Linked DNA regions of Homo sapiens. The protein of the gene in region 1 interacts with the protein of each later gene in a pairwise test. Each region holds a gene or a part of one and is shown in the gene's direction. Other genes may lie near its edges.

The links. Proteins that work in one complex are often made in the same cells at the same time.
Region 2: the proteins of FAM124A (region 1) and CCDC33 interact in a two-hybrid assay, tested with the Homo sapiens proteins (2 studies listed by BioGRID and IntAct).

What each region holds. Positions count from the first base shown.
Region 1 is NC_000013.11:51,225,391-51,232,418, forward strand, and holds part of FAM124A (protein FAM124A), read left to right. Parts: intron 1-5,957; coding exon 5,958-5,989; intron 5,990-7,028.
Region 2 is NC_000015.10:74,267,308-74,274,335, forward strand, and holds part of CCDC33 (coiled-coil domain-containing protein 33), read left to right. Parts: intron 1-1,034; coding exon 1,035-1,151; intron 1,152-4,395; coding exon 4,396-4,487; intron 4,488-5,463; coding exon 5,464-5,584; intron 5,585-7,028.

The sequences.
Region 1 (7,028 bases):
GCCACCTACTGTTCTAAGCCTTTATGTATTTCATGGACTCCTCGAATCCTTCAACAACTCTGTGCAGCAGGTGCTTTTTAAGACCAGCCTTGAGAAACTATATTTAAACGCCCAGTCAATGAGAATGAGCTGATAAAGGAGCCTGAGAAAGAGTAGACTTGGAGTCAAAGAAAGAAGAATATGAATCATTGAAGCCAAGGGAGGTTTGAGTTTTTGAGAAAGGAAGGAGAGATCAACTATGCTACTGAGAAACTAATGAAGATGAGGAACGCTAAATGTCTTTTTTAAATGGAGATGATGAAGTGAAGGAAGAGTGGTATTTCACAGCGGGGTGGTGGAGGCAGGAGCCAGATTAGAGTGGCTCTAGAAGGCAGTAGAAGGTGAAGAAAAGGAGACAGGTGGATTCCTTTGTCTGGAAAAAGGAGAGGCAAAAAGAGGCAGTAGCTAAAGGGGAGAGTGGAGTGAAGAAAGATTTCTTAAATATAGGTGCTAATTGAGCAATCAGTGTGATAGAAAGGATTCTATAGAAGGGGGAAGGAGAAGGAGGAGAAAAGATGATAATCTGTAATGTTGCTTGCTTGCTTTCTTTTTTTTTTTTTTTTTTTTTTTTTTTTTTTTTTTAACAGACAGGTCTCTCTGTCACCCAGGCTGGAGTGCATTGGTGGAATCATGGCTCACTGCAACCTCAAATTCCAAGGCTCAAGTAATCCTCCCACCTCAGCCTCCTAAGTAGCTGGGATTACAGGCCCGCACCACCGACACCATGCCCAGCTAATTTTTTTATTTTTATAAACACAAGGTCCTGCTATGTTGCTCAGAAACTGTCTTAAACTCCTGGCCTCAAGCAGTCCTTCCACCTTGGCCTCCCAAAGCACTAGGATTATAGTTGTGAGCCACTGCTTCTGGCCCTATAGTGTCAGCATTCTGAAAAAGTGGAGGCAGATGGACTTCATACCACAGGGGGATGGATGGCTTTAGGTAGGAGGCAGGACATCCCCTCCTGCAATTAGAAGGGCAGGCAAGATGGGGTTTCTCTTTGGTGTAAATACAGCCCTCCATCATCTGAGGAGAATGGAGATTTGAATAGTTGTTTGGGGCAATGTTGAGTGGGTGCCCAGTTGAAATTTGCAATTACGTATTTAAATAAATAACAAGGGGTACGAGTTCCCGTTGTTATTTATTTTCTCGCAGCAATGCTCAACTACCTAGGGTCAGGCAGAGAGAGAGAGTGGGTAGTTAGGATCATCAGAATTTGGGGTAAGGGGGTGTGAACAAAACACAGAAACAAGGGCTGTCAGGGTATTGCTTAAGCTGATTATCCTTTCAGTGGCATGATGGAAGAAACAGTTCCGAGAAACTTTGTGGGTCCCACTGCCAGTGGCCATGTTGGCCACTTTGAAAGTTACAGTCACAAGAGCCAGCCTGCTTGCATTCATATTCTGGCTCCTCCACTTAGGGACTGTGAAACCTTGATCCAGTGACTTAACCTCTCTCTGCTCTCAGTTTCCTCCTCTGTACAAGAGGGATGACGATAGTAGTACCTACCTTCTAGGGTTGGTGTGAGGATTAAATGAGCATATATATTTAAAGCCCCTAGAACAGTGGCTGTTCAGTGTCTAGAACCCTTAGTACATGATTATTTCTCACCATACTATATTATTATTGTTATGAGGAACACTCCAAATTATAAACTTAGAGTTTTATTTAATAAAAATGGTGAACTCAAGACCATATGTTTTTCAAACTCATCACAATAGATCCTCTGTTGCTTTTAAATACCTTAAGTAATTTGATCATTCAGAGCATCTGAGAGACTACAGGGCATGCCTCACTATTCTAATAATTATATTTTACAGATGAGGAAATGGAGACTCAGAGGGCACATGGCTCGTTAGAGGCATGAATTGAAGCCTGGATCTCCAGTATGCTTCCCACCTAGTGAAGTTGCCTCTCCAGGAGCTGTCTGATCTGTAATTAATTCTTGTTTTCTGCTCAGACATTTTCTTTTGCTTGAAATGCTGCTGCTGCTGTCTCACCCACCTAATACAGGCCAAGACTAAAAGCAAACTAGTATTCTTCTGTAGCAATTGATATCATTTTGAAACTCCCATTTTCCAAATCCACTTGAAAGATGCCTTGTGCTTTTATGTACTTTCTGTTAGCAAAAACTGGCAAGTCGGCTGCTGATGGTGGTAAACTATCTTAAGAAACAGAATCCCTTAAATAGAAGGACAGCCAGTTCCTTGTAAACCCAAATAAAAGCCAGTGCTTTATAATGACTGTTTCATTAGTGATGTCTTCAAGATTTGGCATGTAAGCCACTCTTTTGTATGTGATGGGTTATTTTCATTCAATAGTTTGGTCTGGCATTAATGAACTTCCACTTCCATCTCAGCTGTCACTGAGCTTCTGAACCTGTAGGGCCATACCATGCCCTGTTTCTTTGGAGGACCTCCAATTGATACTTCGCTGTGACTTAAGACATAACAAAAAATCAGGGGTCTAGACTTTAAATAGGTGGGTGGAAAAGAATAGGTGGGATGAATTTTTAAATGGGATAGGTCTTTTAAAAAGATGAAAGGGGAAATGCTGTATAGAAGACCAGATCGTTTGTTAGTACTTTGTTATCTTTGTATTCAAGGTGGAGCTAGTTAACACTAAATTTAATTCAGTGCAATGAGGGTTAACAGAAGAAGTTCATGATGCTCAATAGCTGATGTTTTACAGAAACATCAAGATCAATTTTACAGGAATGCCAAGATCAATTCTTATGCCATGATTTTCCTGGAAAATAATTTATTCTGTATATATGTAGTATATATATATATGTAGTATTCTGTATATATGTAGTATATCATTTGGTAGCTAGGCTGCTGTCTGATAGGGTAAACTGTCTTAAGTACAGAACCTCTATGTAATCCCTATATGTAATATTGTAATTAATATAGACAAGGGACTGCATCTAACTTTCTGTTCATTATTGGCACAAATAGTAAATAATATTTGGAAATGTGTCTATATTTGTCAGGTGTGTGAATGTACATAATTTTTGTATTATTCTGCTCTATATCGTGTATAAATTTTTCATTCTAAATTCACCTTTCATGCTTCATTCTGGCAGGGCTGAATGTCTTATGCATAGCCAGCTAACTAAATTCTTAAAAGGTGAGACCAATAAACAGAAATCTCAAGGCAGCTACCCTACTGCTGTTCCTCTTGCCTAAAAAAAACTTGTCCAGAGTACAGACTTGTCCAGAGAACCCTAATGAAATACCTGGTTATTCTCTGAAATGGTTTGAACCTATTTATTATGTGCAGAATTGTTTCAAGCTTTGTAGTTTGTCTTTCCTAACCGTATTTCTAGTAAATAAGCTTTTGAGGTTATTTGGAATATATTTTAAGAGCTATAAAAGTATTTATACCTCAAATCAGTCTATATTTCCACCCATGATAATTTTTCTAAGGAAAAGAAAATAAATATAAAGCCATATTCATAAATACCTCATTGCCGTGTGTTTTGTAAAGGTGAACAACCAGGAGCGATCATTTAGCCAACAAAAGGGTTGAATAAATTATAGTGTATTAATTTAAAATGATAATTACAGGAAATGTGTAGCAGCATGTTATGATGGTATCAAGTGAAAAGAGCAATTCAAAATTGTGTCTCCATCATTATGGCAACTGTGTACAAATTGCATATACTGAGGATCAGAGGCTGGAGAGCAGTGGGAGGCTGTAGGTGACTTTCTGTGTGTTTCCGTTGTGACGGTGGACCCGGGTGAAAGTTGGACAGCAGAGCTGGGCCATCCGTCACGGAGAGAGGGGTTTGTGTTTTACACTAGCGAGCTTGAATTTCATCCAGAGAGAGACATGATCAGATTTATCCTTTGCAAAGATTGGCTGCTGTATGTGGAGGGAACTGCAGCAGGATCAGCGTGATTGTCAGAAGGCTGACCATTCGGCGGGCCCAACCCGGTGGTGCCCTTAGTCTCTAGAAACGTGGAGGGACTCATAGAGGGGCATCAGTTATGCCAGCACCTGTCCCAAGACACTAAAATACTGTTGCACTTTAAGATTCTTGAACTATGTTTCAAGTGTAAATTTCATTCTACATACATATCCATCTGTATGCAGATCTTTAAAATGTATGCATATGTGAATCCCATCTGCTTCAAGAGAATTTGGAAAATCCTAGCTGAAAATACACATTTTAAAGAATAAAAGAAATAGAAATATCGCCATTCTTATTGTGTGTTGTATTTGAATAGTCATGACATTTCTTTAAAGTCTGTCCATCTTAAGATGATTTTATTGTAATCAAGTTGTTTTCCTGTTGCATCTACCACAGTGGATATTTGCTGAGCAGTCACTAAGTTTATATATAATTACATTTCCAAGTATTGTTCTAAAGTTTATGTCCTGAATGGTTCCAGAAAGAATTTAATGCACCAGTACTGGGTTACAAATCCTGGGCTTCAGAATGTTGCTAATCCTTGACCCTCCCCTCTCTGTTGTCTCCCTTAGCTAGTATGTCACCATGTGCTAGCCAGTCAATCCCTTCTGCCTTCGGAGTCCTTCCTCTCCACCCACCGTGCACACTCAACTTCAGTCACTAATCATTGCTCACCTCCTGGCCTCTGTACAGATAGTATCACTTTAATTTCCTAGTCAATAAAATATTGAATTATATATATATATATGAATGCAGTTTGTAATATATAAAGGGATATGCAAATGTTGGTAGTTGTTATTCTTTCCAGTTTTAAAATTCATTGATTCCATGACTACTAAAGTATTTCATTTGTGAAAGTGAAAACCACATGTTGTTTTCTTCCATTTTGTTCCTCGACCAATAAATCAATGCAGCATTTTGAGTGATGTAGGTTATTTTAATCAGTAAGAGGCATGCTGCTTATGATTTTTTTAAAAAGTTTTGCATGTACTTTTTTAAATGTGGCAAGAAGTTCAATGGAGTGAAAATTGGATGATTCAGGAAAGGCAGCAGGAGACTAAGGAGATAAAAGGAATGTATATCTATAAAATTAAACATAATTAAGCAGTTTATTTGCATAACTTCGTCCCCTAACTTCCATGGCAGAATAAATCCCTACGTGCTAAAGTGATTAATTTCCTACTGAGAATGACTTTGGGACACTAGGGGAAGAAAATAAGTAGCTTCCATATCAAATTTGTTGCCAGAGAGGAAAGTCTTAACAGCTACAGAAGTAGGGCAGAAACTTACTAGAGATTAAGCAGATCCTTGGCCAGAGCCCCACTCTTACGGAGGCTGAATGCCAGCAGCTGATTTCTCAGCATAGAAACTGAAAGGGCGATTTCACCCCAGCCTTAGCCTGCCTTTTCCCTTTCCCGATCACAGCTCACATCCTGTTACTCTAATATCCAGCAGGCTTTCTTCTCAGATGGAACTGAAATCAGTGGAAATATCATTGTGCCTTTGTTTCCTGGTGGTCAGCCCCACCTTGAATGTGGAAACCTTCGCAGCTGAGGTTCCCTCTCTCCTCGCGCTGGGATCCTCTGCTTATGTTAGCAAAGAACATTTCCCCATGGTGTTGTGCGAATATTTGAAGGGTGCTCATTTGCAGTAACCTTTGGAGTGAATCTGTGAGTGGTGAATCTGTTGAAAACTTTGGGGCTTCTCCCCAGAGAAATAACCATTCAATATTTTTGCTAAACCTTTAGATGGCTTCTTCCAAACCTCATCAGAGGAATTTGCAGAACTCACATGAGAGCCCCCAGAATTCTAAAGTTCCTTTAAAGTTTTCTTTCAAATTCAGACATAACTTTATTTTGCATAAAATGAGCCTTAGCACTGCAGTTTTTAATTGGTGACATTTCTTTACCAGCTAAATGCTACTTACCACTGACTGTTTAAAATTCTGGCTTGAATAAATCATTTGGATAAAGAATTCTACTAACGCTGAGGTCTTGTGTTTCAGGTCCGACTACAGCCACCTGTCCTCCACGAGCAGTAAGTATCTTTTAAACATCCTTCAGCATTGTCTAACGGTCCCCGGAGAGGTCAGTACCCTAGAGGCCATGTGTGTACATGGTTTTATAGTAGGTAAGAATCACCAAAGCATCTTTGCCAAAGAATGTGGTACAGGATGCTGTAACTCTGGAAGTGGAGGCTTTTCCTGGAGAATCTGATCATACAGAAATTCAGCCTGAAGGATGTAACCCAGGCTTTATCAGCTGCTTGTGGATGCTTCTAGGAGCATCATCTCTGAAGAATCTGAGGTAGCGCTTTCATTGAACAAACATCTATCAGATACCTGCTACCCTCAGGCAAACAGAAAGCTCAGAGCACAATTCCTGGATCCCTGCAGTTGCTCCAGCTCATCTCTTGCAAAATCTCTTCCCTTGCATGTCTGCATCTGCAGGCAAATATCCTTCCCTCTCCAATGGAGGGAACATCTATCTCTGGCAAAATCCTGCGAAGTGTGTTAACAGTTGGAACAGTTATAGCTAAAGTGGAAAAGTGATAGCTAAATTCCCTAATTATAACCTACATTGGTTATACATGCCAATACATATGTACCAATACGTATGCACATTGATATACATATATATCAGTATGTATAACCGATGTAGGTTGTAATTAGGGAATTTAGCTATTACTTTTCCACTTAAATGTGGCTAAAAGAATACAGACATTTTTATCAATCCATCATCCTGTATTTGTAATTCCTGGCTTATAAGTGGTTATTATATGCAGCAGAAAATGATCAGGAATATGTTTACAAAGACACTCTGGTTATTAAAAAGGTGCTTATATTTAATATTAAAGTACAGGTAAATTTACTCATGAGAAATTATGCCTCATAACTAGAAAGAATTGAGAGTGATTAAGATTACTACATAAATGACCAAAGCCATTCAGATTGATTGAATACTTATTTTAAATTAACAAAAGTAATTGTCTTAATATAAAGGCCCTGATTGTTTAAATCAGTAAATATTAAATTGTTTTGCCCTATCTCACTAGCCTGTTAAACTCTGAATTCTAA
Region 2 (7,028 bases), on another chromosome or scaffold:
TCTGAGCTGCCTCCACATGCTGCCTTGGCCAGAAGGCCCAGGAGAGTTGGGGGGTACATGGAATAAAGCATTCCCTGGAATGCACCCCTGGAGTGAGCAACTGGGTCCAAGCCATGGACTGAGGGGCCTGAGGCTCCTCACTCCAAGGTTGGGCCTCCCAGGCCAGACCCCTGCCTGTCCTCCCTCCTAGTGCTGAAGGGTAAGGGGTAGAATTCACTCTCTCATTGCTCAAGGACTTATGAAGCACCTACTATGTGCCAGGTAGTGAGCCAGAGATGAACAGAAGCATCACATTCCCCTCCCCACTGTGCATTCCAGACCCTGAAAGTGGTTGAGAGTAAAGAACAATGTGAAGCCAGACTGTCGGGGGTCCTAGACCAAGTTTGTTGCCTCCTAGCTGGATACCCATGGAAGCCACTTGGTCCCCAGGCCTCCATCCTCACTGGCAAAGCTGGCACAGTCGTTTTGAGGATCTCAAGCAATGATAGGCAAGGTTCCTGGCATACAGTAGGTGCTCAGTTTGGTCAGTTACCCTCCCCCATCCCTCCTCCGGGCCAGCACTGAACTTTCTTCTAAGCATTTCTTCAATCATGGCACCAGGGGGCTTTACCTTCTCTTAGGCCCCATGAGGAACCCCAATCCCAGGGCTTCAGGATGGGCCATGCAGGGAAGTAAAAGAGAGATGTGCTACTCACCCTGGGAGACTCAGCACTTGAGCTGTAATTCTGGGGGCATCACCCAGGCCCCCTGGCTGTCTGTTCACTTACAACCCAGGCCTTGTTATCACATCTTTACTGGAAAGCAGACAGGCAGTGGTCCTTGTGAGGGTGATGAAATATTCAAATGGAAAAGGGAAGATTTATTATATTGATCTCCTTGGAAGGGCTCACAGGGACCATGAGCTTTAATTATCAGCTCGGAGCCCCAGCGGAGCAATGCCAAGTGATTGTCTGCAGAGGGCTGGATTTATGGCCAGGATCTGCCCCTTAGACACTCTCCTTCCTCTGTGTCTTCTGCCCCAACCCTGTCTCCAGCCCACTGAGTCTGGGAAAGCCGATGAAGCCACTGCCAAGACCCAGTTGTACGCAACAGTCGTTCGGAAGAGCAGCTTCATACCCCGCTACATCGGCTGCAACCACATGGCTCTGGAGGTACCAGGGCTGGGGCCCTCTGGGGTGGTGGTGGGGGTGGGAAAGGGCCAAGCTTTGAGCAGGCCCCACGCCTTGCCCTTAGCCCCCTCTGGCTGACCTGAGGGTGTGGAGCAGAGATGTCAAGAATGGAAAAAGCAACCAGGCCTTTCCAAAATAGCAAAAGGAGTTGTGAAGACAAGCCCTTTGGCAGGGATGACAAGGATGAAGATGCTCAAGCCTCTTCTCCTTCCCTCTCTGTCTTGGAGGTGGCGGGGAGGGGCTCAGCCACACTGCTGCTCCTGGTGTACCGTCTCTGTGCTGCAGTGGGGACCAGAGCCTGTCTCCCCGAATCTTATGCTAGGGGCAGGGGAGAAGCCCCGTGCTCCCCCTGAGCCCACAGCCCAGCAGTTTCCTGCTCTATTCTTCCCCTCCTGGGATAGTGCCTTGGCCCCCAAGCAAAAGTTTAGGGCCTCCTTGAGCTTTCCTTCAGCACTGTGTCTAAAGAGGTTTGACTGGTCTGGCGATTAGGTATTTAGTTTATTCATTCATTTATTCATCCAGCAACTGTTTACAGAGCCTCTTCCATTAGCCAGGACAGGGCTGAGCCCACCTTGGGCCTGGCCACTGCCCCTTGACCCATCACCATCCACCCCCTAGGCCAATTAGCAGCTTTGGGAGGAACTCTTGATGCTCAAAGCAGACATGATGCAGGGACCTGGCCCCTCTCCCATTCCCCCCAACTTTCAAACTGCCCATGGGTGACAGATTCAAATTCAGCTATGGCCTGAGTATGATCAGGGTGGGAGCCACAGGACCCAAGCTCTGAGCTTCCACCTACCCAAACATGGCTGATCTGTTCCTATCCTTCCCACCCCCCTACTTCCCACCAGCACCGTGGGCCTGGCAGGGAAGGAAGCATTCTTTTGCCTTCTTTCACAGCCAGGGACACTGAGACCCAAGGGGAGTATGGTATGGGAGCCAAAACTCCTAACCCACATTTCTACTCCCCTACAGCCACCCCTCTGATGCCAGCATATCAGACCTACAGGCGCCCTCTGCTCCCCGCCACCTTCTATCACGCCCTTTCCTGAGGACAGCCAGCAATTCACACACACACAGAACAAGGAAGAGGGGCAACAGCCTGGCCTTGCTGTCCCCAGGCCGCACCCCACAGGGAGGAGGCCACATCCCCAAGACACAGGCAGAACTTTAGGGCTGCTGTGGAGCTGCCCCACCCCACCCAGCCCTCTGACTTGCCTGGTAGAGCGGTAGAGTAGGGGCCTTCTCTGGCTCACAGCACCCTGCCCACTCTCCTGCCCCAGCACAGATGCCCTCTCCATCCGTGCGACAGGTATGGCCACAGAGCAGCTGCCTGCTCCTGATGGTGAGCGCATGGCAGGAGCAGGAACTTCTGCTACTTCCCAGGCTGTCATGAGCAGGTGTACTTGGGCAGCTGTCTCATTCACACCTGATCAGAGTCCACACAGAACAGGTGCAAATTAGCTGCCACCACCCCCTTTTTAGTCTTACACCTGCTGGGGAGCCTGTGAGCAATAGGGCCTGCCAGCCTCCAGTGAAATCCCTCAGCCCCAGACCCCAGACCCATCCAAAGTGTGAAATGTACCATCAGAGATTCAATCCTTTGAATGTGATGAAGGGATTCAGTCTCCAGAGCCCTCAGTGAGAGCTGCGAGGCCCTAAGGACTATTGTACGTGCCCATCAGCTCACACCTGTGTGGGGTTAGAGGTGGGAAAACCAGCTGAGATGGGTATTGAAAGAGGAGCCTGAAAGGAGGGTGCGGAGGGAGAAAAGGGAGAATGATCCAGAACAAGCCTCACTCCTGGGCCCTCGCCAGCCACAATGGGTTGGTGGGAGCTGCAGGGAGTCTGAGTAGAGGGATCAGCATGTGCAAAGACCCTGTGGCAGAAATAAGAGGGGTAAGTGGCAGGAGTAAAAGAGTCTGGAGCAAGAAGACAGGGGCTGGGGGCCTGTCGGGAGACACGGCAGAGGGGCTTGTGGGGTGTCGGGCAGGGAATAACGTGACCCAGTTCATTTTTAACAAGAGCACTTTTGCCATCATGTGTCAAATTGCCTGGGAAAGAGGATGGATTAGGGAAAGGAACAGAAGTGGAGAGGCTAGTGAGGAGGCAGAGGAATCGAAGGAGCAAGAGGAATGAGAGCCGAGTGGGAGGTGGGTGAGGGCTGAGGGAGAGTGGGAGCCATTGGTGGATACAGGGTGAGGGTCAGGGTCCGGGAGATCAGGGCCTCTTAGGCTGGCAGCAGAGGCGCATGGGGACAGACTCCCTGTCTCCCCTGTCTGCCTTCCAGTGTCCCCCAGGCCCAGACTGAGCAGGGGGTCAGTGAGGGTTGGAGCAAGGTGACGCTGTCCACTCCTGCTTTGTAACCTCCTGCTGGGACCCCGCTCGGCTCTCTGAAAGCTGCGCCAATAGAAGCCTGGAGTAGAGGAGAGGGCAGTCAGGACTGGGAGGCAGGGAAGCCTTTAGGGGGTGACAGAGGACTGAGGAGGGAACAACCAAGGGCGGTCAGGGGAGTGACAACCGGGATCTGATGAAGAAAGAGGAGCCCAGAGATGCGGATGCTATGATCCTGTTCCAAACCAGTACTTCCTGGGGAAACCAGCAAGGCAGGAGAGCAGGCACCAGGGTGAGCAGTGGAGCAGGCACCAGGGTGATGGGCACGAGGGAGGCAAGGGGAGCCTGGCTGTGGCCGCTGATCTCAGGAAGTTCAGCATGGTCGGAGAAACCAGACCTGGGCTTCCTGTCTTCAGTTTATAAAGTGCTCTCTCACAAACGATCTAATCAGAGACCCCTCACAGCCCTGGGAGGAGCCTCATTTGACTGACAGAAACCAAGGAGCTGGAACACCTAGCCCTACCCCTAGCCCAACCCCTCCCCAGGAGCCAGTGGAGGGGCCGAGGTTAGAACACAACCTCCCTTCCCAGGACCCAACTCTCATCGTACCCTTTCTCCCCAAAGAAACTAGTGTAAGAGATCCATTGGTAAATCCCAGGACAGAAAGCGGGAGCAGTTGCCTCAGCTCGGCAGAGAAGGCTTCCTGAGGGAGGGCAGCCTGGTGCAAAGCAAGAACCGAGTAAGGCAGGGAACAGGGAGAAGCAGGTGTCAAGTGTGGAGGCAGCCATGAGCTCACGGATGGGGAAAAAGAGGGTAGGCAGTCTGGCTGGCTGTCTCTGGAAGGTCCCAAGGCCACATGGTGTTCACCTGCCTCCTCTCCTCTCCTCTCCAGATCTTTCTCCGGGGAGTCAACGAGCCCCTGGCCAACAACCCCAACCCCATAGTGGTGATTGCCCGGGTCGTTCCCAACTACAAGGAATTTAAGTGAGTGGGGCCCAGGTGGACCTGGGTGAGGAGGGCAGAGCAGAGGGCAGAGGAGGGGGTGAGGCTGTCATTGCTGCCATGGGCTGATTCCAGGACCTCCGGCAACCCCTCTACCCCTAAGGCCCTTCAAGCCTCTCCATTGGGTCTGAGGTCCCAGTAAGCTTCCTGCAGCAGACCATGCCTTTCTTTCCCCAGGGAGAGCCCAGGCCCCTGGAAAGGGGCAGCTCAGTCCTCTCCTGAGAGCAAGCTGGAGGGCAGGTGGTGGGGATGAGTGCCGATACCAGGCCTAACAGCTAGAGAGTGTGGGGAGGACAACAAGAGGGGTCCTCATTCCCTGCTCAGGGAACCTCAGCCCCTCCAACCTGCCTCCCTGCCTCACACCCACCACCTCCCCACTCCCCCTCCCACTCTAGCTCAGGGCCACAGGCTCCAGCCAGTGGTTGGCCCCAAAGGCCATCTTGGAACTTCACAGCCTTTAGCCCTGCCGGGCGGAGTCTCCTCCCTCCTCATCCTGGAGGTCTCCCTGGTCCCAGCCACAACTCATCCCCTCCTCCCCTAGACCTCCTTTTGAGTCTGTTGGAGTCACAGTCCTCAAGAGGAGATTCATACTTTGCCACACAGTGGGAAATTCCCCTATGAACGTGTGCTCTCTGCCACAGCACCGACTCCTGGGAGTCAGGGTCTGTCTTGGTCACTTCCAACTGGCCCTGATGGCCCAAGATGACTCCCCTACTTCTCTGTATCTCCTGTTGAGTTTTTATGACTTATGAAGCCCCCTTGCTTGTTGGAGGAAGGAAGATGATTGATGCACGCCCAGCCCAGTGGTCCCCACTTGTCGTGAGGTCCAGGCCCGAACTCGGCGGGATCCCTGCAACTCCCTTCTCTTGCATCAACCCAGAGTCTAAGCGGGGGGCCCTGGGCTGCCAGGCTCAGGTGCAGAGCCCAGAGCACTGACCCTGTCTCCCTGCCTCCCCAGGGTCAGCCAGGCTAACAGGGACCTGGCCTCTGTGGGGCTGCCCATCACCCCACTGTCCTTCCCTATCCCGTCCATGATGAACTTTGACGTGCCTCGCGTCAGCCAGAACGGATGCCCTCAGGTATGTCTCCTCCCCAGTGGTTCCAGCTTCCTGTAACTACCCCACACATTCACTGTTCACTCACTCAGTGAGTCAGTCAGCAGTTCCCTTGACTATCGAGTAAGAGTTGACTGAATCCCACGGCATACCCAGTGCTGTGCTCGCCTGTGCGGCAGAGAAACTGCCCTCCAGGAACTCTTGGTCTGGTGAAGATGGGAGTCACGTGGGTGAAAAAGTTGAACATCAACACAAGATAATGTATAATCTAATAACAAACTGGGAGGGCCTGTCAGGGCTATCACATCAGAGGAGAAGATACAAAAGGACAAATATATGATTCCACTTATATGGGATACCTAGAATAGGAAAATTCAGAGTCAGAATGTAGAACAGTGGCTACAGGGGCTGGGGAAAGGGAAGAATGGGGAGTTACAGGTCATAAGTACCTAGTTTCCGTTTCAAGTGATGAAAAGTCCTGGAAATAGATAGTGGTGATGGTTACACAACAATACGAACAAATGAATGCATTTAACATTACCGAACTGTACATTAAAAATGGCTACAATGGTGAATGTTGTGTTACGTATATTTTAACCCAGTAAAAAAATTTTTTTTGAGACAGAGCCTCGCTCTTGTCTCCCAGGCTGGAGTGCAGTGGCGCAGTCTTGGCTCACTGCAACCTCTGCCTCCCGGGTTCAAGCAATTCTCCTGCCTCAGCCTCTCGAGTAGCTGGGCTTATAGGCACATGCCACCATGCCTGGCTAATTTTTATCCTTTTAGTAGAGACAGGGTTTCACCATGTCGGCCAGGCTGGTCTCGAACTCCTGACCTCAGGTGATCCACCCGCTTTGGCCTCCCAAAAGGCTGGGATTACAGGCATGAGTCACTGCGCCCAGCGAAAAATTTTTTTTAATCAGAGGAGAGGGATGTAAAGCCTGGATTAGGGAAGGCAGTCTTGAATTTTTTTTTTTTTTTTTGAGACAGAGTCTTGCTCTTGTTGCCCAGGCTGGAGTGCAGTGGCACCATCTTGGCTCACTAGCAACCTCCGCCTCCCAGGTTCAAGCAATTCTCCTGCCTCAGCCTCCCAGGTAGCTGGGATTACTGGCACCCGCCACCATGCCCGGCTAATTTTTGTATTTTCAGTAGAGATGGAGTTTCACCATGTTGGCCAGGCTGGTCTCAAACTCCTGACCTTGTGACCTGTCCACCTCGGCCTCCCAAAGTGCTGGAATTACAGGCATGAGCCACTGCACTCAGCCGGCAGTCTTGAATTTTTAACAGAGGAAGGGTTGGTACAGGTTGGACACAGCAATAGCACAAGTGTGAGGTGGAGACAGGCAGGCTATGACCCATGTCAGGGCAGACAGGAGGGCTGTGTGTTTGAGTATGAGGTTGGGGGCGGGTGCACGCACAGAACATGGCTGGGTTCAGGGGAATAGCCAGATTGGTCTCTTCTCATGATCTG